Linked DNA regions of Homo sapiens: region 2 is linked to region 1. Evidence: fine-mapped expression QTL. A gene starts in region 1. The other region holds a variant in brackets. All regions are shown on one strand. Distances are from middle to middle. Region 1 holds the start of PROX1-AS1 (PROX1 antisense RNA 1). Region 2 has its middle 270 kb from the start of LINC00538.

Evidence for each region. PIP is the estimated chance that this variant, and not a neighbour inherited with it, causes the effect.
Region 2: its variant is fine-mapped to the expression of PROX1-AS1 in pancreas (GTEx, PIP 0.99).

Annotation. Positions count from the first base shown.
Region 1 is chr1:213,979,956-213,991,117 of GRCh38, forward strand. It overlaps PROX1-AS1 (PROX1 antisense RNA 1), which reads right to left and starts at 6,198. Exons shown (of 6, transcript NR_037850.2): 1 at 6,114-6,198. It overlaps PROX1 (prospero homeobox 1), which reads left to right and starts at 8,018. Exons shown (of 5, transcript NM_001270616.2): 1 at 8,018-8,528. RefSeq lists enhancers at 3,498-4,184, 4,185-4,870, 8,395-8,898, 8,899-9,402.
Region 2 is chr1:213,649,874-213,661,035 of GRCh38, forward strand. It overlaps a transcript of RPS6KC1 not described here. Among named protein-coding and RNA genes, the nearest start is that of LINC00538, 270 kb to the right of the region's middle. The variant G/A (reference allele first, on the strand shown) is at 5,584.

The sequences.
Region 1 (11,162 bases):
ACCCGCACTGAGAGTCAAGGCAGCCCCGCTTCCCTACCCATAGCGCCCCCCGGGAGATAGTCCGGGACGCAGGGCCCCCGAGGCTGCGGGTCCAAGTCTTTCAGCCAACCCGGGATTAGCGAGCCAGCCGCTTCAAAAGTCTAGGCGAGAGGAAGCCGAGACGCGTCGGCCTTCGCCGGGCTGGAGCCCCTGCCAGATTTAGCCTCCCGCCTGGCCTTTTCTCCGGCCTGCCCCTCCGCCCTTCAAACGACGCTTCCACACGCCCCCTCCCCGCCTGTTTCCCGGGCCTCCTCCGGGGAAACTGGCGCTCTTCGCCCACCCAACTCCCCTCCACCCACCTCCCCCGCGCCCCCAGTTCGAAGTTCCCCCGACAGAGCCCACCCACACTCGCTCCCCCAACTCCACTCCCTTGCCCCTCCCACACACACACAGCTACACACTACCCCTGTCCCGCCCATTCACACTCTGCAGACACACTTCCCCCAGCCCTCCCCATCCCGTTCTCCCCCAACTCACCCACCAACACCCTTTGCCTCTCGGCCTTTGCCCCCTGTCCACCTACAAGTGTAGGGAATAGAGCTCTTTCCACTAGGAGGGTGCTTGGGGAGGAGAAGCCAGAAGTTGCCATCCATTTTTGTACAGTTTGACCCCAAATATGTTTCTCTCTAGTTTTTGGGGGGCGCCCTTTGTTTTTGTCCCCTAAAGTTACGGACTTTTTCCACCTAGGAAACAGGGACAGAGAAAGTAGCCAGAGAGCAGGAACCTTCCACGCTTGCCCAAAGACCACGGACACCAGGAGGACAGGCATCTAGGGGTGATGCTTCCTCTTTCCCTCATTCAGAGAGTGCAGTGCCTTCACCCCGACCCCTGGGGTCCATTCACTAGGGGCTGGGCCCACCGACACCCCACGCTGGCAATCCCTTCTTTACTCCCCCCGCCCCCGGGAATCTACGATTACTTTATCTCAAGCCTTTTGAGGGTACCAGCAAAACACCTTTCTCGGGATGTTTAATAAGCTGCTCACAGGCCTCTGCAGTTGAAAAACTGTCAGCCCTCTTGAGCTGTTGTCTGCTGCTTCAGCCCGTTCCATTTCCTTGGCTTTCTTCCCCCCACTTCTGCAGTCACAGCCGAGCATGGCACCTTCCTGCCCAGCTTCCTTTCCCTTCTCACAGCTGTCCTTGGCTGTCTGTCCCCTAATCACCTTGGGGTATGCTTCTATTCATTGGTTTGAACATAACTTTATGAAAGTTTATATTTTAATTTACATGGATTTGGGGGAGGTTATTGAGTCAAACATGTAAAAACATATAACATATGATCTACATTTGCTTTTGTTTTACCTAGGAATGTTGTCTTTTTTTTTTTTCTCTCCTTCTTGTTGTTCCCTTTTGAAGAGAACTCTTTGTCCTGTGGTTTCATTGGTCTGACCAGCGGTTTCTTTAGGAGATGCTTGCCATCTATAAAACAGGGAGGGTGAACGGGCCAAAAAAAGGTGGGGGTGGGGTGGAGGAGGAAGTAGACTTCAGATTGGTAAATTCCCCCCTTTGCCAGTAGGCCTGATGGACAGTTCTAGGTCCAAAAGCACAGGGCCTAGCTTCCAAATGTGCCAATTCTGATTTATTTTATGGCCTAAAAGACGGGGGAGGGGAAAGCATGTAAAGGTGACAACTATGCATGAGCTAAAATGTGCATACACATACATATCCCATGACAGTCCAGCTGGCTTCACCAAAACGTTGGGGATAGGGACAGGTCCTTATAAGAATACATGTCAGCTCGAGTGTACACAGCACTCATTTGTGGGCAACATACCTTCCAAGTATTGAGCACTAGTCATGTGCTGAACAAGTTTAGTCGTGTAGAAGTCTCTCAATAAATCTATGATTTGGATATTATCCCCACTTCACAGATAAAAAGAACTGAGTCTCAAACAGATTAAGTAACACACTGAAGGTCACAGAGTCAGTAACAAACCAGCTGAGCAGTAATTAAAGACACAGGGTGACCCCCAGATTCCCAGGTCCTTCTTCTGATTACCTCACTGGGGTGGGCCCAGAAATCTTTATTTAAAACAACAACAACAACAACAACAACAACAACAAAACACCCCTTCGGTGATTCCGATGATTCGTCAGGTCTTCGGAAGCACCACTCCACATCAAACCATCCCGCTATTCCTGTCACCAGCCTTGCCTCCAAGCAGCCTACTCCACGTTGGACAAAACATTTAAAACATATTTAAATAGCAATTTCGAAAAACTATACAGCATATGGATTTTCCTTTTGATCTCAAAATGATGACAAACAGACACTTAGATACTTCATAAAAGAAATATTACCAGAAAAAATATAGAAATCTGGCTTTCAACTTCATCTTGCTCTAATTTAAACAAAATGCAACTTTCCAGTTACTCTCTCCAAATGCATCCAAACTGGGAGCGTCCTTCTCTTTTCGCTGCGTCAGGCAGGCACCTACTTATTTCTAGCCCACTCCTCACCCTGAATAAAAGCTTCTGGTAAGATGGACAATATGGAAAACTTCAGTCCTATCACCAAAGCCCCTGAAAATGGAGCACCCCCGAATTCACATCCTTGACGTGAAAGACCAAAGAGAGGGAAGCTGGGAGTAACGGCCAAACATCCTTAGAGTAATTGACAAAAGAAAGGGGGTGGGCAGAAAGGGAGATTTCCATCCCTTCAAACGTGCACGCCCCTCCCGCGGTCCCGGGAGGGAGTCCCCCCTCCCAGGTCGAGCGCGTCCACCGGCTGTCCCCACAGCAACAGGCGGGCGGCGGGGGAGGAGAGGCCGCGGGGGCAGCGCAGGCCTGGCGGCGGCCGAAATCCCCCGGCCACCACGACGTTCCCCGGCTCTGCGGCGCGCCGGGAGCAGGTGGTTGCCCTCTGCGTCCAGGGCGTGTACTGAGCCCAGGCTAGCTGAGCGAGGCTGCAGCCCCTGCGATGGCCCGGGAAGAGGCAAGTGCCGCGGGGCCAGAGCGAGGAGGGACCAGCAGGGCGGCCTGGACCCCCACTTGGCCGCGCAGGCAGGAGGGGCGCGCCCTCTGCGGAGCGCGGCGCCGCGGCAGCCGCAGCATCTGGCGCTCGCTCTCTCTGGCCGGAGAGGCCGCGACACCTAGCGCGGGGCCGAGGCTAGGAAGGGCGGGCCGGGGAGGGAGGAGGGCACTGGGAGGAAGCCGCGGGCGAGGAAGCCCCGCTCCTGCCGAGTGCCTGGAGAGGAGATTCCCAGCCTTCCTGCCCAACCCGAAACTTTTCCAACACACGCAGGCGTATTCCTCGCAGGATTCGGCGGTCCCGAGTCGCAGTCAGGGAGGAGGCTCGGGAAGCACACGTGCCCTGGCACACTGGAGGAGGTACACAGGCACACCAGGAGGGACAGGGCCTCTTGGGAGGCGGCTGAGGGCGTGAAGGCAGCAGGCGGCCACACATCCGAAAGGGACTCCCTGCGAGCGGGATCGAGCGCTTAAAACCCTGCCACAGCTTGGAAGTGTAGCGGTGCCCAGAGGCTTTGCGTAACTTTGCCCACTGCGCCCCCGCGTGCAAAGGTGTCCCCTTCACACTCACACCCTCACCCCATCTCACTCCCCTTGAGTTGCGGCCCGAGACTGCCTTTGTACTTAAGCGACAGCAAAAGATATGTGGATTTGAACCAAAGATGGTGGGCAAGAGTGTTGTAAATTGTGTAAATTCCACTCGCGGGAACCCCCAGATACGTAGGGAGAGCACCCCTTTCTCGCCGAAGGCATCCCCTCCGTTTCTCTCAGCCTTTGGGTTTCCAGCTTCTTCGCTACTATGGACTGAAGAAGACAAAGCACAGCCAAATCAATGTTTTGGGTGTTTTTGTTTTTGTTTGGTTTTTTTAAATCACGGCCTCTCCAAATGCTAACCCTCAAAACGATGGGTGGGGTTGGAGAAAGGCAAGTTATGTCAGGGAGCACCCCTCGGAAGGCGCGCGCGCGGCCTGGCCGGTTCCTCGCCGGGCTCTGGGCAGCCGGGCGGAGTGGCTAGATTATGTAAGTAGCAGCCCTCCATGTGCTCACCACCATCTGTTAATATCTTGGTATTGGAAAGTTCGGTGCCTGAGGCAAAGCCAGGGTTGGCGGCGAAGAGCTCCCAGCCTACACTTCACTACTCCAGGGCAGGGAATGTACTTCCCTTTGATTGTTTTCGCCCACTTCCATAAAATCAAGTAGTAGTGTGTCCCTTCAATCACTGACAACCTCCTCATCCCCGCGGGTGTGTCTTTGTGGGCGAAGAGTGATTTTCTTCGAGGTCAACTTATTGTAATTAGCCCTTTCGATGAAATTATATTTTCATGACAATTCTGCGCTCCTTAAAGCAATGTGGCAGACTCTTATTTGGGAGTGGGTTCTTTATCATTTTAAAAATTACTTTCTTTCTGCCAGCACCCCTGGATCCAAATTCTTGTAAGGGTTATATTTCAACTTCTTTGGAGTGATTGGCTTCTGTTTACTTTGAAAGCTGTTGGTTAAACAAACATCACTCAGGAGGCTTCTAAGCAGTGGGGTTCCCAGGAGAGAAAACGCTGCAGCTGCTACTTGCTACTGATCTTGTGGCATTTCACTTCCCCCCCATTCAGAACAAATCCAGGTTGGGCTTGGCGTCACACTGAGCACAGGAGATGAGAGTGAGAGGCCGTCAGTCAGTTTTGCCTCTAGAAAGCTTGCAGCAGGCAGGCCTGCACCCTGGGGTTGGTTTTCCTCTCTTCCCTTCTTCAGGGTGCTGATAGTGATGGTGGTAGTGGTGGCGGTGGTGGTGGTGGTAGCGGTGGGTGGCTGACCTGGAAGTCCTTAGGCACCCTTTTCCAAAATCCACGTCCACTTTTGCCTCTCAACTGAATCTGGTTGTAATTCTCAGAATTGGTTTGTTTAGGATCTGATAACAGTTGTTTGTAAGGTTTTAAATTACTTATACACACTGTCTTCCCTCCTGCCCCCACCTAACAGCTTTAAGAAAGAACAGGAGGCGTGAGCATACACCGAGCAAATGTCAAGGCGAAGTGTATTTAACCCAGAACCAGATGCATGGGTGATAACTGCGAGTTTGTCTAAGAACACACAGATCACCCTTCAGATAAATAAGTAAATGCAACCTGCACGGATAGAGTGTGTTACAAGACCGGTCAGAACTTGCGTTAACTTCTAAGTTACTGGGGTTGTGTTGGAAGTGGGGCGGAGGGAGGAGTTGTCTTAACCCTAGGCTTGGCGGCTGGTTTCAGAGATGGAGCCAATATCTAGGCGACTCCTTGTCTCCAGGCTTCTCCCCTATCAGAAAACAAAGCGGGAGTCGCCCGAGATAGGGGGCTCGGGCCTCAAGTCTTGTCCAGGGCAGCCCGAGACCCAGGAGAATGCCGCAGCTCTAGCAAGAGAGGTTGCCAGGAGCCTGGCCTGTACGCCTCCCCGACAGTAGAGGACAGGACACGGGACAGGGCTGCGCCGAGGCAGCTCACGGAGCTGGGCTGCGAACCGATCTCGCTCGCCTAGCGTGGCGCGCGCTCCTATTTCAAGTCGCCGCTCCTGCGCCCTAATGCGGGCTGCGAACCGCCGCGGCAGAGCGTCGCGAGCCGGGAGCCTCTGCCGCCGAGGCTGGGGGTGGGAGAGCTTCCTTGTTCGGCAAGCGGGTTACCCCGACTTCGACTCAGGCCTGCTTTTGCCCACGGCGTGACACAGGACTTACTGGGGTTCTCAGGGAACTTTTCCCGCCGCCAGTTCCCGGGCGTGGTGTGTGCAAAACGTGCATTCAAGCGCTATGTGCAATTGACACAAACTTGTGGGCTAAAGTGCAAGCCATTTTTTTCGCGTTTGAATCTTTTTCTCTGTCCCTGACTCCTTTCTTCCCCCTACTCCCCCCTCCTCCTTCTCTGCTCTCCGCCCTTTTAAATGTCAAACTGAGCAGATGGTTTTAAGGTGTGGAAAGGTATATAGCCCTTACTCCTACCAGTTTATTTGTGGGCTGGCGCTAACTTATATGTACAAACCAAGATTCTTAAAGAAAACTAGTAGGACGAAAAATAAGAAAGAAAGTAGCTTTGATCCATTCTCAGATCCCAAGTTTCCCCGCTCAATACACCCGCTTACCTCGAAGGGACCCAACCAATAGAAGCATTATTCCGTCCTGTATCTAATGGGCATGTTGATTATTTCTGCTCCCAGCCTCAACTGTCACATCCCGGTTAGAACACCTGATACAACAGTCAATAGTTGGAGGTGTGAGTGGTGCGTGTGCGCTCCTCTGTGTTGCTTCCGTGATAGACGCGTGGGGGGAGTGTGTGGGGGCGGCAAAAGGGGAAAGAAGAAGGCTGGGGATGCTCCCGCAATCTCTTTTCTTATCGCCGACACCTAACCTGACCGACCTAATTTTTTTTCTCCTTTTCACTGTTTGAAATTCGTGCCAAAAGTTTCCTGCCGGGATAGACTCGGACATACTAACATCGCTATTCTTATTCAAAGGGAGGGCTTAATATCCTCTTTACGGTTTGGTGAATTTGAGGCTGAAATTGTAAATTCCCTAGGAAGGAGTGTGTGTGTGTGTGTGTCGCAGAAGACATTGGTAGTGTTTGGCCAGTGTACTTGTAACACACCTCATAAATACCCTGTTGTCACGACACAGCATGATTCAACCTTTGATCTGATTAAATTTGAGGGACACACGAAGACTACTTGTCCTCCTCCTACTTACAAAAATGAGTGTCTAATAGACTATGTATGAATGTTTCTGCTTCGCAGCTCTTGCAAGTCCCAGCTTTTATAGGATCTTTAGGTCATAAACGCGGCTGCTTTATTAAAAGCCGTTTACTGTGCCCGGTGAAAGGGACGTTCTAGCTGCGGCTGAGGCTCGCTTGCATTTGTAACTTGCAAAGCCCAAGGAGATCTTTAAGAGCCACATTATCTAAAGAAATTTTGCTGGTTATTTTTCAAGCAAGAAATGTCAAACCAAAGTAAATTTTCTAGGGCTTTATTTTAGAGCCTGCGATTTATGCGTTTGAAATTTCTTGCCTAATAAACTTTAAAGTTTGTTGCCCAGGCGTCAAAACTGTGTAAATCCTGTATTGAACAGCTATCTTTGGTCTTTCTGGGGCGAGTGAATTAGTGAAGGGTAATCGCCAGATGTTTGCAACATATATATTTTTAAAGGCTGCTTTACCTACAATCCAACTAATGTCAGAGGTAACCAAGGGTAAATATTCCTCTTCCTGATAATTTGGACTGGAGATAAACTGGGACTCAGCCAATGTTGATCTTCGTCTAATAACAGATGCAGCGGACCCGATGTGAAACCTCTGGCACCTATTATTTTAATACCAAACCTACCTGTATTTTATTGTCCACCTCCCCTTTAAAAGGAACCAAGGGTGACACGTATCCTTGACACTACCTATGATCGTTTAAAAAGTGGAATGATTTGCAGATCCCCCCCTCCCTCCTCCTATGCCACCCCCACCCCTAAAACCCCCACTTTTTCTCCCGTATACTTTTCCGTGCCTTCCTCCACCCAAGTCGGAGGAGCGCTCACTCGCTCGGCCACTCGGCGAACTCGATCAGCTGTATCTGGGAAATGAAAAAAGAAAAAGAAAAAAAAAAAAAAAGACCTGCGTCCTGGAAGAGCTAGTGTGAGCCGGGCGCCGCTCGCGCCGTCTCCCGCTTTGCATAGTGCCCGCAGATGGCTCGCTCCGGCCCAGGCGCGGCGATCCAGTCGTCCCGAAGCTGTGGCAGGGTGGGGGTGGGGGTGGGGGCCGGGGATGGAGGCCGGGGAGGGGGAGCGCAGGGCCCCTCTCCCCTCCTCTCTTCCCAGCCCCTCACCCCCACCCCTTTTATATTTTTTTTTCCTCCCAAGTTCTCTTGCCTTGCTATCCCCCCTTGAATCCGAAGGCGCCTCGCGATTGGGTGCTGGGGCCGGGTACGTCAGATAGACTGTGACGTGCAGTCTTCCTGTTTCCTTCAGCTGTGTCTTAAAGTAAATCTTGTTGTGGAGCGGAGCCCTCAGCTGAGGGAGCGCTCTGAAATAATACACCATTGCAGCCGGGGAAAGCAGAGCGGCGCAAAAGAGCTCTCGCCGGGTCCGCCTGCTCCCTCTCCGCTTCGCTCCTCTTCTCTTCTTTACCCTTCTCCTCTCTCCTCCTCTGCTGCTCTCTCCTCTCCTCCCGCTCTTCTCTCTCCTCCTCTCCTGCTCTCTCCTCTTCCCTTAGCTCCTCTTCTTTTCTTCTCCTCTTCTTCCCTCTCCTCGCCTCTCCCCTGCTCCTCTTCTCTCGTCTCCCCTCCCCTCCCGCCTCTCTCTCCCCTCTCCCTCTCCCACTCGCCCCGCTCGCTCGCTCGCTGTCGCACAGACTCACCGTCCCTTGTCCAATTATCATATTCATCACCCGCAAGATATCACCGTGTGTGCACTCGCGTGTTTTCCTCTCTCTGCCGGGGGAAAAAAAAGAGAGAGAGAGAGATAGAGAGAGAGAGAGAGAGAGAGAGAGAGAGGCTCGGTCCCACTGCTCCCTGCACCGCGTAAGTATCTTCTTCTTCCCCTCGTGAGTCCCTCCCCTTTTCCAGAATCACTTGCACTGTCTTGTTCTTGAATGAGAAAGGAAGAAAAGAGCCTCCCATTACTCAGACCCGTGTAAACATTATTCCCCCCAGGAGAAAATGGTGTTATTCAAATGAATCATAATAAAATAGCCTCTAAACAGTTTCTAAGCGGGAGCCTCCGTGGAACTCAGCGCTCCGCTCCTCCCAGTTCCTAAGAGTAAGTGATCCTCTTGGCTTTTATTTCTTTCTCTTTCCTGCTGGTGGCTGGGGGTGGCGGTGGCGATGGGGGGGAGGCTGATGTTGCTGGACTTGTCGCTGATCTTGTCACCTTTTGTGTACTGTTTCTGGGGTGTGAGGAGGCGTTTGCTCCCTTTCCTTCTTTCTCCTGCTCTCTCTTCTCAGGAGAGAGGACCGCGAGAGGGACCGGGTCGCTTTTTTGTTCGTGGAGATCCCCGCTTTCCGCCAAACCCCATCCTTCCGATCTCCCCAGGCTAAAACTCCGGGGCCGGTCCCCTTGTCCTTTCTCTTTGTCTTGTTTATTATAGCTGCCTTTCTTCCCGGCTCTTCCAATTTGCTTGTCATTTGCATACCTTTCACTTCTCCTTTTTTAACCCCAGCAGAGGACCGGGAACTGGGAGGAGGAGAGAGGGAGGTGGGGGGGCGCTCTGTTACTTTCGTCTCAAAACGCTGTCGAAGCCGAATTGTGGAAATCCGGCTTGGAGGGGAGCGGTGATGGGTCCCGGGAAACGCGCGCGGCGCCCCTCTTCCGAGCTCCTGGACCCAGGGCTGGGTCAAGTTGAGTAGGGTAAGGCGGCACCGGGAGGCTCGGGGGGTCGCGTGGCGGTGGGATTGGGACACCAGCACGAGGAGGACCGGAGGATCGCGGGCCGGGTAAGAGTAGGGGGTTCTTGGGCAGCAGAAATGGGAGGCGATGAATCTCCCAGCCATCGCTGGCAGACTATGGTGTTGGGCAGCTTCGGTCTGGTCTCGTCTGGGTGGTACCTACCGTTTTGCCCCAGTTAGGAGGACTGGGGAGGGAGGACAGGAGAGGTGAGAGTAATTGTTACTGGGAAGACTAGTGAGGAGGGCGGGAAGAGGGAGGGAAGAGCTGCTATCTTGCCTGAGCAGATCAGGAGGGGGACGCAGTGGGCGGGGGGAGACATCACCCAAAGTCCAGTTTAGCAAGTTGTTGATTCTTCTGGTGTGCCAGCCCGTTACTCCCCCTGCTGAAGCTGAAGGTTGGTGGAGTGATGGAGCGTGGGGATGGTAAAGGAGGAGTAAGTAGCTTTCCACAGACTCCCAGGTCTCTGGCCCCTTCCCAGCTTCTTGGGAAATTGAGAGCCCTCCAGGCAGACAGAGAACAGAACTAGAAGGAGGGGTGGTGCTTAGTCTTAAATAGCTCAAGGAGGCAGGTTGGAGTGTGAAACTGCTGTTCTTGGCAACCCAGAAGGCTACTCTGCCTGGGGGAAGGCTGGAAACTCACCTGCTTGTTTTTATTTTTCCGAGAAGATCTGTGCTGTCTCCTTGAGCTTATAAAAACAGAGGAAGCACAGGGTGGCCTCCTCGCAAAGTCAAGGCTAGAAGACTCCCTTCTCCTGTTCTCTTTTCCACTCATGCCCTCCCTTATTTAAAAAAAAAAAAAAAAAGAAAGAAAAGAAAAAAAAAAGAACTCATTTCCTTTCCTAACCTAGGTAGGCAGAAATCTATTAGCAGAGTGCGCATGGGCAGGGCCTGACAGGTGTGTTGTGTCAAGAAAGACAGGTGCAAATTTCCTCTGTGTCTGTGTGTGTCTGTACAGCTCTAGACCACAATGCTTGCTCGAGGGTTGGAGAGGTTTATGAATTTATGGTTGTCCTGGTTAATAGGATTGTCTGGGCTAATGGGAATTGGGCTGTTGTTCTTTTGAGCCCTGCCATGTGAGTTCTTGGGGTGGGGGGTGGGGGCAAGTTGGTATGTGTTTGTTTATTTTTCTTAAGGATATTGGCAGTCTACTGCTGAGGCTGTGTCCCAGGCTTCTGTCTGCCAGTCAGCCCAAAGCACCCCCACTTTAGGCAGCAGGTGGAGGGAGACTGACTTTTCCTTTGCTTCCTACCAGTTTATGCCTATCTCCCAGGTCTGTGCTTGGCAGAGAGAGAGAGAGAGAGAGAGAACTGTCGTGTGTGTGTGTGTGTGTGTGTGTGTGTGTGTGTGTGTGTGTTTGTGTGTGTGTGGTGTATGCTTTGGATAGCAATGAGTGGTGTGTAACTGCCAAGAATTCCAAAGTCAGTTTGAAAGTGTTACTGTTGTTAAAGCTTATCTTTTTAAGCATGCTTTCTCCTTGCCCAGAAAGAATAGGTATGTACATAAACTCTTTCAAGTCATATGTTAAATAATCTCATAAAGTAGAATGAGCCTGTCATTGTCCCAGACATGTGCCAAATGTCCTAGATATGAATTTGATGGAGAAAGAAAATCTCAAGTACATGAGAAGGTAACTGTGCTTTTCTATTCTGATGCAAGATGTGAGAAGTCAGTTCTACAGGGAATTTCTTGCAAGAACTTCTGAGTATTTCCAAAATGAAATTTTTTGTGTGTGTTGAGGGAGGAAAACGAGAGTATTCACATTAACTTGTC
Region 2 (11,162 bases), 330 kb before region 1:
TCTGCCTTGTGATGGTCCTTGTAACAGACATTTGATCCCGAGCAATATCTTCTAGACCTCTCGGCATTCATGGACACTTTATCGGTGCTATCTCATTCTTCCTCACAGCAACTGAGAGTAGGTATTATGACCCCTGTTTTACACATGAGGAAACTGAGGCTCAAAGAGAAGAAGTGAGTTTGGCCTTGTCATACGGCTGATTGCAGTGGATGCAGGAGCCCAGCCCAGGTTTGGTCCCTTTCTATACATCCAGGCGCTCCCTATGTTGCCCAACCAGAGGGTGCTTACTGACTGTCACCTCCATTAATTGTCACCCTTTAGAAACAGGTTTAAGATGCTGAGTTAGAAGCAAAAGCATTAAGTAATGCATTCACACCTCAATAGACTCATACACACTTATGTGTTATCAATGATGATTGGGGCCCTGAATTTGTGCAACAAATATCACCTGTCCAGTGGCTTTATTTCTAATTTAGTAACTACCATGCCTTTAACTAAATAGTCAGCCTTAGTGAGATATTAGCCTTCAGCAAAAGTATCAGCAGTGATCCCCTGCAAAGCCTTTTAACATTGCTCATGGAGGCACAAGCTCCCTCCCTCATTTTTCCTGACACACTCAGGGAAAGAAATCTCTAAGTTTACACCATCTGCTAGCCTCTCACCTTTCAGCATTTGCATCTATGTCCGCATCCGGGCCCCCTCTGCCAAGAGTTTTTCTTTTACCAGCTACAGATGAACGGAAACCTGGGGAGTGGGGAACTGTTTGGAATTGGGATCTGTCCCTTCAAGGAAACTTGGACAAGTCTCCCTTGCCTCCTGAGCCCATCAGCTCATCTCCCTCTCCCCACCCCATTCCATTTTTGTTTAGTTTGACCTTGGTCACTGATGACAAGGCTTCTTTTCCTGCCAAACCAATCAATAAGCTAAACAGACAGAAGATGAGTATTTAGAATATGGGAAGCCAAACTCAAACACAGATAGGTTATCAGCCTAGCCCAGAGCAGACTTCTGAGCAAATATTTCATTAACAAATTTTTCATGGCAACTTGCATGTTAAAAAAAAAAAAAAAAAAGAGGGGAGAGGGGGAGAGAGAGAGAAAACGTGTTGGGGGTGGGGTGGAGGTGGGGAGAAAGGGAGAGGCTGGCTGAAGCCCAGAAGCTGAATCGCCCTCCTAGGGAGTGTTGTTTGGAAGTGTGAGGCAGAGTGTAGGGAGAAAAGTGGGATGCAGAGAGAAGACCCCCAGAATGGGGAGCCCTATTTACTTAAGACCTTTCAACTTCAAACCTACCTCTTATTGCAAGGCTGGCCATGTGATTCATCTTCGACCATCTCCACAGGGGTGGGGCAGGCTACATCTCCCCAATAAAAACGCCAGACAGGCAGTCAGCAACTGGCAGGTGGAGCCTGGGCTGGGCACCTGGTGGGGGAGATTGGGAGGAGAGAGGAGATGTGGTCCCTAGAAAGCCCCATGGAGAAGCTGGAGAGCCACGGTGAATACAAACATAAACAATGATAACAAAGACAACTGTGTATCGGCCCCCACTGTTTTAGGCAGCCTTGAAGGCACTTCAAATATATTTCATCATTTAATCCTCACAACCAGGCCCAAGACTCTGTGGTCAACACTGGTGCACGATGCCCATGGGTCTATTCTGATGGCTCAATATTTTGAATATCATGCCCTGTTCACAACAACCCTAAAAGAAAGGCACTTTGATTTTAATTTATAGATGAGGCACTTGAGATTCAGAGAGGTTGAGACACTTATTCACATTTGGACAGCTGGTAAACTGAAGAGGCAGAACGAGGGCCTACCCAGCCTGACTCCAAAGGCAAGGAGTTTTCTGTTCCTTTCTATTGCTTCCCTAATAGCTTTCATTATACTTCCAAGAAAAGGTTGGAAAAACATGGAATTAGTAAGGTTCAACTCTTGTAAGCAAGTGCTGAGAGCAGGAAAGAAGGAAGAGACTGAGTTTTGAGCTCCTTGTGTGCCGAGCTCCTTCCCACGTGGCCTGAGCTCCTGCCTTCATTTGGATTCATGAGGGTACCATTCAGGCCTCAGTTCACAGTCACTTCTCAGAGATGCTTCCTGACTCACCCTGTACTATTTGTTCTTATTGCTTTCTATTTTGCCTTCAGCATACTTATGCTAATTAATTGCTTTTAATTTGTGCTATTTGTGTAAATTAGCACATATACTAATTAATAGTAATTTTATAATGTTAATTTATAAGTATCAAATACTAATTAATATCTTTTTGTGTAATTTATTGATGAATGTCTTTTCGATAGACTGGATTAATAATAATAATGATATTAACAATAATACTAATAGCTAGCCTCTATTCAGTGCATTCTACGTGCCTGGCACTGTGTTAAGGGCTTTACATATGTTAACTTTAATCCTTTCAGTGGTCCTGTGAGGTGGTGACCATTAGTGTCCCCATTTTACAGATAAAGTAACTGAGGCACACGGAAGTAAAGGAACTTGCCTGTTGTTTCTTAGCTAATGAGTGAGTGACAGAGCAGGATGTGAACCCAGGTGGTCTGTGGTCCCAGCATCCACATTGTTAACTGTGATATCGGGCAGACTGCAAAACATGGCCACAAATTCATATAAATACACCTTAGAGGTGGAGTCTGCTTTCTCACCTCTTGAATCTGGGATGCTCATGGGATTTGTTTTGACAAGCAAAATGCAACAAAAATGATGTTACATGAATTCCAAGGCTAGGCCTTAGGCTTTGCGGCTTCTGGTTCCCTGCTTTCGGAATGCTGTCCTGAGACCACCCTGTGAAGAAGCTGGTCTGGCCTTTGCCTGCATGTGAGGCCACATGGAGGAGAACTGAGGTACCCCAGCCAGGAGCCTGTCTGTACCAGATGTGCGAGTGCAGCCATCCCAGACCCTGCAGCCCAACCCACCCTGCACCTGAATGCAAGCACATGACTGGGCCAGGCAAAATCAGCAGGGAGACCAGCCAGCCAACCCTCAGAGTCATGAAAATTTAATAAATCATCATTTTCTGAGCCATGAAGTTTTGAGAAGGTTTGTCATGTAGCAAAGGCTAACTCAGCAAGAACTGTCTTATTCATACTGTATCCCTAGCGCCTAGCAAGATGTCTGGTACATAGCACTTTGACAGTAAAAATGTATTGGCTGAATGAATAAACAGAAGTGAGATTGAACCAGGGAGACCCCCTGGAAGATGCTGGCTAACTTTACAATATATCATAGAATACAGTCCATGTGACACATTCTGGAATTCTGGAATAGAAGATAATTTAAGAACACTAGCATTCTAGTCTGGGTGCAGTGGCTTATGCCTGCAATCCCACCACTTTGGGAGGTCGAGACGGGCAGATAGCTTGAGCCATGAGTTTGAGACCAGCCTGGGCAACATGGCAAGACCCCATCTCTATTGAAAGTACAAAAAGTTAGCCAGATGTGGTGGCACGCATCTGTAGTCCCAGCTACTCAAGAGGCTGAGGTGAGAAGATCACTTGCTCTTGGGAGGTAGAGGCTGCAGTGAGCCGTGATCATGCCACTGCACTCCACCCTGGGGTGACAGAGAAAGATCCTGTCTCAAAAAAAAAAAATTACTAGCATTCTTAATTTTCTGTAGTTTCTTTCAAGTTTGTATCAGCTTAATTTCAGAGTATGTTATAAAGTCATTTGTTGACATTTAAATTTTTCTTTATGTTCTTTCTTAGGCTCTTTAACCTATCATTTGTAATTTATCTTGACATAATTTCATATTTGTTTGTGTAATTAATTGATCATATCTATCTCTCCCCTAGATTGTAAACTCTGAAAGGACAGGGACCCTGTCTGATTTTGCTTATGGTTGTAACGCTTGTTCTGGCTCATAGCAGAATGGACTGAATTTAAAATGTGGGTTTCTTTATTTTAATTTCTAGTTTCCTTAGGTTGGTATTAAACTCTAATCTGCATTTTCACATTTTCCTGCTTCAATTTTGAATCAGAGAATGGTAAAGGTGATAGGGCCTTAGAACATCTCTTTTCCAGGGAAGTAAAGTTCAAAGGATAGCATACCTCCCATTGTCACACAGCTAGTTTATAGCAGGGTCAGGACTTGAGGTCATGTCTTCACTGGCACTGATTTTACATTCTTTCAAAGTGTATAGACCCTACAGCCCCCATTGTACAGATGGGCAAACTGTGCTAGAACCAACGCCAGATGGCAGATTACTTATCTCTCAGCTGAAGGCTGTCTTCATGTGCCCAAGCTGACTCCAGGGTTAAGCTTCTGACAGCTCCAAGTATTTTTTTTCTCTTTTATGTTGCTCTCAAATATATTTCTATCCCTGTCAGACCATCCCCCTTGTTCCCATTTAACCTGAGAAAGTTAAACCCACTTTTGATCATTATGTGAAAATCTGAAGCAAAGTGCTTCCTTCAAGGCAGATGTTTGGAAATGCTGAGCTGCAGGCGTTCAACTTGTCAAGTAACTTTTCAAATGATAAAAAAAGGGGAAATGTAGGTCAGAAAGCAATAAACTATATTCATATCCAATATATCCTTCTGGTTAAGGAGGCGACTTTGAATCTCCACCTTTCACTAAAATGAAACAAAAATCCAAATCCAACCTAAAGCATTACAGCTTTAAGTACTGAAAGTATTTATTGTTTCTATTCAAGTAATCCAAAAGCATAATCTCAAGAACATCCATGCTCCAGGAATGTCTCAAAACACCATGGATTTGATGTGATTCCTTTATCCAGATGTTTGTAAAAATGATTCAGAATGGCATGAGGGGAATTAAAGATTTATTTTTAATATCTGAAAAAGTCATATTTCTAATAACAGTGAGCCTTAAAAATGTGGCCCCAGTTTTTGCTGCCTGTCTGATTTTTCTCATTATCATTTCTTAAATAACAGCTCTGCTCCAAATGATCAGCCTATAAGTTTCCAAACATAAATATTTAGGTATTGGAAAGACAAAGCGGGTGAGGTACTTTCATTGTAACATTGATGTTCACGTCGACTTCATTTCAAGAGATGTTTTTCACCCAATGAGTAAACTATAGGCAAATCTCACAAAAGATCGCTTCTTGAGGGGCAAAATCTCTAACTAACTGCCCAAGTGTCCCAGTCTTGGAGAGTAGTGTGATTTGCCTTTCAAGATCATGGTATGTTTTATGTATTTTTTCTTTTTCTTTATTTTGAGAAAAAGTCTCATTCTGTCACCCAGGCTGGAATGCAGTTGCATGATCTCGGCTCACTGCAGCCTCCCCCTCCCAGGCTCAAGTGATTTTCGTGCCTCAGCCTCTCGAGTAGCTGGGATTACAGGCATGTGCCACTTTGCTCAGTTAATTTTTGTATTTTTAGTAGAGACAGGGTTTTGCCACATTGGCCAGGCTGGTCTCGAACTCCTGGCCTCAAGTGAGCCACCTGTTTCGGCCTCCCAATGTACTGGGATTACAGGCATGAGCCACCATTCCCAGCCTATGGTATATTTCTATCTGTCCCTTAAATGTAGGTAAGTAACACCAAACATTCCACAGTTAATGTATTCATTACCTTGTGTTCGGACATCCAACATAAGATACCTGTGAGTCAT[G/A]AACATCTTATTATTTGAAGGCCTCTCCTTCATCCATTATCCCCTCACTTGTGGAAAAGGATATTCTAAAACACGCTAGATTTTGTAAGTTGACCAAGTTTACCTGATGGAGAAGATACATTTCAGATTCTACTGGCAGAGAGAAATTCAAAATTAGGTCATCTCATGGTTACAAGTTGTATCTATAACAGAAACTAAAAGGTCTCAGAGATCATACACATTTTTCTGGTGGAGAACCCTCACTTTAAAGGGACCTGCTGTGAAACATTCTTTACACTCAAAATAAAAATATATATATACTGAATATTTCTATGGAAACGGAAGTTTTGATATAAAATAATATACAGTAGCTGGGTTAAATCTAAGATCTGTGCTCCCCCCAGGATGAATATTTGTGATTTTAGAGGATGACCCCCTGTGTATTGTGATGTTAAGGAAACTCAGAAGTCCTCCCTAAGCCTCTAAATCTTTCAGTTTGCTGTTTCTTGAAATTGATTTGTCAGAATTCAGTCTCTATTTTAAGATTTGGAGACTTCTAAGATACAAATACTTCGTTTTTTTCTTTGGCTAGCATTTATATGGTGGTGACTTCCTGCCAGGCATTACTGTAATGCTTTATGAGTATTAATTAATCCTCCCAGAAAGTTTCTGACTTGGGTACCAATGTTGTCCCCATTTGCAGATGAGGAACATGGGCACAGAGAGGCCATGTAACACAAAGCAGGTCACAGAATCATATGTGCAGCCAGGCTGGATGCCTTCCCCACTACACTGCACTGCCAATCTCAGCCTGTGGCAGCACCAGGCGAATAATTTTAGGAAACTTCCCCCAGCCTAGCACAAGGCTCGGGAGGGACAAGGGGCTAGCAGATTACAAAACGTGACAGCACTGGGCAGGAATAAAGTGGATGGGTAGAAAGAGGTGCCTAAAACAGGATGAAAAGAACAAAAGAGAAGGTGTGAATAATGAAGACAAAATTTGCTTATTTCTTAATTACAACAGCAGTGGAGACAGAACTGTCACAATGGTCACCCTTGGAATCACAGGTAGGACCCTTAATGATAGAATCCAATCCCTCATTTTTACCGAAGAGTCAAACAGAGACTGACAGAGCAGACTGAAGACAAGGGAAAGGACGTTTCTGAGATTTCACAGCTGATCAGTAGGCAAGCCAGGACTGGGCTCCATTACCCTGATTCTGGGTCCAGGGTCCATTCCTCTGAAAGCATTCTTATGCACTCCACTTCACTGAGGGGCTGGAAGAAGCTCAGCAAAAAGGAATCTTTTTTCTCTTTGTGCTTTGCCTTGTAAATGTTTGCTGCCTGGATGGTATTTGGTTAGACAATGACACAGTGTAAGAGAATGTTCTTCCTACTATTCACAACGATCATTTCCTTATAGATGTATTTTCTGGGAAGAGAGCAGTACCTTATTCTCTACCTTACATTACTTTTTTGGGAGCAGATAATGCAGCAGAGGCTAGAAGCAGAATTCACTGTCACTATCCCATATCAAAAAGATACTATGCATTTCTGAAGAGCATCAGAGGGGCCAGGTGAAACCGTGTGGGCTGAAGAGAGGGAAGAAATGATGAACATAGTTGGAAATGAAAAGTATTCAACTATAAATTAACATAAACCCAGGGGTCATCTTGCATGCACTCCTAGCAATAAGAGACTCCACAATGTGGATGAACAAGTGAAAAAAAAGTAATCAAAGGTAAGAAAGAGACATATGTGAGGCATTAAGCATCGAGTACAGAGGCAGCCAGGGAAGATTACTGAACAAAGTCCAGGGAGTGTAAAAAAAGATAAGGAAGGCAAAGGTAGTGAATGAAAAAGAGATTGCACTGAAGGTTAAGATAAATAATGGGGAAAATTTCAAGTGTGTAAGGAACATAGGGGTCATTGAAGGCGATAGTTGGATGATGAAGAATTGGAGGGTAATTTAAAAAGAGGTAGATGTAGCTAAAAAAAATAATGTAATTATTTAATTATTTAAAAAAATATTTTTTTGCCTTGGAATTCTCAGAAGATGGGGGACAAATGTTAGAAGCAGACATGCATTTCCTAAAAGAAACCAAAGAAACTAAAGAAATAACGAATAACACGATTACATCACCACAAGAGATTCAGAAATTAAGACTTGGGAAATAAAGCATTAGAGAATTCAATTCCAGGCAGAACGTATACAAACACATGTGAATAATGAATAACAGGAACTTAAGAAATAAGAATTTGAAAAACCAAACTTTTGGGGGAAAAACAGTTTCATGATAAGTGGTTGGTGCTATTTTTTGCTGCTCTTACAACACTAGAGTCATCTTCTTAATTTCTCTCCCTCTTTTGCTTCTCAGTTTCCTTTCACAGATATTTATTGAAAGCCTGCTAATTCTAGGCATTATGCTATATTTTAGGAGGTACATGGATGAATAACATATTTTCTATGGCCCTGCCTTGGCAAGTTTGCATTTTGGTAGAGTGGACATACTGTATCATGAATGGTTGCATGACTCAGCCACATACTGAGGTACTGTGAGGGCTGAGGGGTGCAGGAAATAGAGGCTCCGGAGGTCATTTTGGATTGGGACAATCAAATTCCACCTGTAGGGAGGAAATGAATGACATAATGCTTGTGCGCACTGTAAAGAACAATCCTTCCAGAGTGCTTGGTTTTCTTGTGTTTTGTGTAATGTTTAAAGAGTCAGATATGAGTGGTGTGGGTTACATAGAGGGAGATTGTCTAGGAACCTGTATCATCACATTATGTGGGATAACTTCTGCAAATGCTTGGGGGACCCACTTGTAGATGAGCCTGGGGAACTAGTTGTGTTACTGATCCTGAGATCCGGAGAGGGGGTGACATTTGGCCCACAGGGAAAGAGGTGAAGCGGCTAAGTCAAGCACTTTTGCCCTCCTCCAAAGATTAAGGGAAGCCCTGCAGGGGTTGAAGAGCGAGCACTGAGGGGGCAGAAGGAGGATCAAAGGTGGCCAGTAAGGACAATAAAACTCCAAGTGCTTGCTGAAGAGAGGCAGGTAATTTGATTATCCAACTCAGTGTAGTGACAAATAAGGTAATGAGGCTAGGGACAAGAAATCTAGAGGCAAGACAGATCTTCCTTGGTCATGGGCAATAGATTTGAGAGGATAAATCCAAGTGCACAGGCGGATAAAATGTTAATGTCTTTGGCACCAGGTTCTGGAGCAATAAAATAAATCAAACGTTATTCTGGATTGCATAAATAGAGGGACTGTGAACAAGTCCAAGGTAATTAGCTCAGAGTTATAAAAGGAAATGGTGAGTAGTGTTTGACCAAGGAAACTGGGGGAAATGCCTGCTGAGGCTTTCTCATCCCCTACTTTGCTCTCTCCATTGCTTTTGTTCACTGAATTTAACCTTGACTGGGGTTCTCTGCATCTCCAGCCCTCCGCACCTGAAGACAAACATGTATTACATGTGTTAGTAAGACTAGATCACTCTGCTGATATTCTTTTTTCTTTTCTTTTCTTTTTTTTCTTTTTTTTTGAGATGGAGTCTCCCTCTGTCACCCAGGCTGGAGCTCAGTGACAGGATCTCAGCTCACCGCAACCTCCGCCTCCTGGGTTCAAGCGATTCTCCTGTCACAGCCTCTCAAGTAGCTGGGATTACAGGTGCCTGCCATGACACCTGGCTAGTTTTTGTACTTTTAGCAGAGACAGAGTTTCTCCATGTTGGCCAGGCTGGTCTCGAACTCCTGACCTCAAGGGATCCACCCGACTTGGCCTCCCAAAGTGCTGGGATTACAGGTGTGAGCCACCACACCTGGCCTCAGCTGATATTCTTATAGGGAGGAAGGGCTGGAGTGAGAAGCTTGGATCACTGAAACCCTGTTCCATCCTTTCTTATTCTGATACGCTGTCCTAGGAGCCAGGTACTTCATGCCATCCAAGAATCCTTCCTTTAGAACATTTTCCAATGCTATAAAATTTAGATTCAAGAAACCAATGATTGATTTCTTCTTTTCAGACTGTCCTCTATTAGTACCAGTTACCAAAGAACATTTTCTTAGAAAGAAAATGGTCATCATCACGTACAACTAAGTTATTATTTATTAGTTACCAAAAGGAAAGTTGCTACAACATTTAAATTCAAATCAAAACTAATGACTTCCTTCATTAAAGAATTTCTCTTGTATTCAGGGTTTTTTTTTTTTTAACTGCTTACTGGCATAAATGTTCAAGTTTCGATTTCTTACAATGAAACTCTCTTAACATTTATTCCTCAAACAATAATTATGTGTAAATAGACCAGAGGTGCATATGTGCCTGTAAGTGCATACTGTTCCCAACAGCAGTCAAAAATAAATATCTTTGGATCAATCAGGTTTTAAAAAAAGAAAATGATAGGGAAAAGGGAAGTCGTTTATCTAACCTTAGCCAAGCTATCATCTACATTCCTTGTTTACACCTGATAATACATCCATAATTAAGCATTGAACTTATTCCTTTAAGGTCAGGTTGCAAAGGAGTCAGGGCATCAGGAAAAATTTCACATGGGAAATTCACTTTATACCTAGAGCCGGGTGTGTGTCTTGGCTGAGAGAACAAGCTGTCTCAGGTGTGGTGGCCCCTAGGTATTCTGTTGGAGATCCGAGGTTACTGGTTTAATATTAGCTTTGGGCATATTAGCTTGGCTACAGGAGCCCCTAAAGCTACCCTCTCTCTAGGAGGCAAGTTTATTTTGTAATAAATGTGTGAGGGACATGTTTAGATAATTCTTTTAGTTGGAGTGACAGGGAGGAGGAACGGGAAGGGACTGAAATTTTAATGTAGGCCAGTATCTCTAGGGAATGTAAAAAATGTCCAAGTTTCATGTCCAGAAGCTGTAGGGGATTTTAATGCCAGTGAGCTCATTTTAGACTCTACCCTCCTCATTGGAAGGCCTCTGGGCACATGTCTGGAATGTAGAAGGAAAGGCAGTGATATGCTTCACCCATGGGCGGAGCCCTAAGATCTCCATTTAGAAAAACAAGCCCCAATTAGAAAAACCAAAATCAGTCGTTGCTCATGCGCCTAATTTATTTATTTTGTACCTACTGTGTGCCAAACTAACTGCAAACATTGTGGAAGATTCTAGGTAGCTCATTTTAAAGAGCCTAGCAACACAGATGCATATATAAAAGTAATTCAAATACACCCAAAGCTATAATATTAGTGGGAGAATGGAATGACAGACTCATGCCTACAAATTATGGTTCATTTATCCCTTTCTTTACTCTTCATTCTATTGCACACCAATCTTACAACAAAACTGTGCCCAAAAATGGCAGAGTAGTTTTGCAGAAAAAGCACCATTCTCCCCCATGTATGCAGTAGGGCGATGAAATAATGCAACTGGTTTTATCTGAGCAATGGAACAAATCCTTCCCATTGATTATGATTGTGTCATGCACAAATTCGCCAGTCGTTGAGTCCTGCAGCTAGATTTCAGAGATCATTTTGCCTGTAGAGACAAGCCCAGGTAGTGAGGCTGTGTGCTATATTTTGAATCTTGAGAGCAGAAGTTTCCACAGCCTTCCCGAGTTGTCTATTTCAGCCTA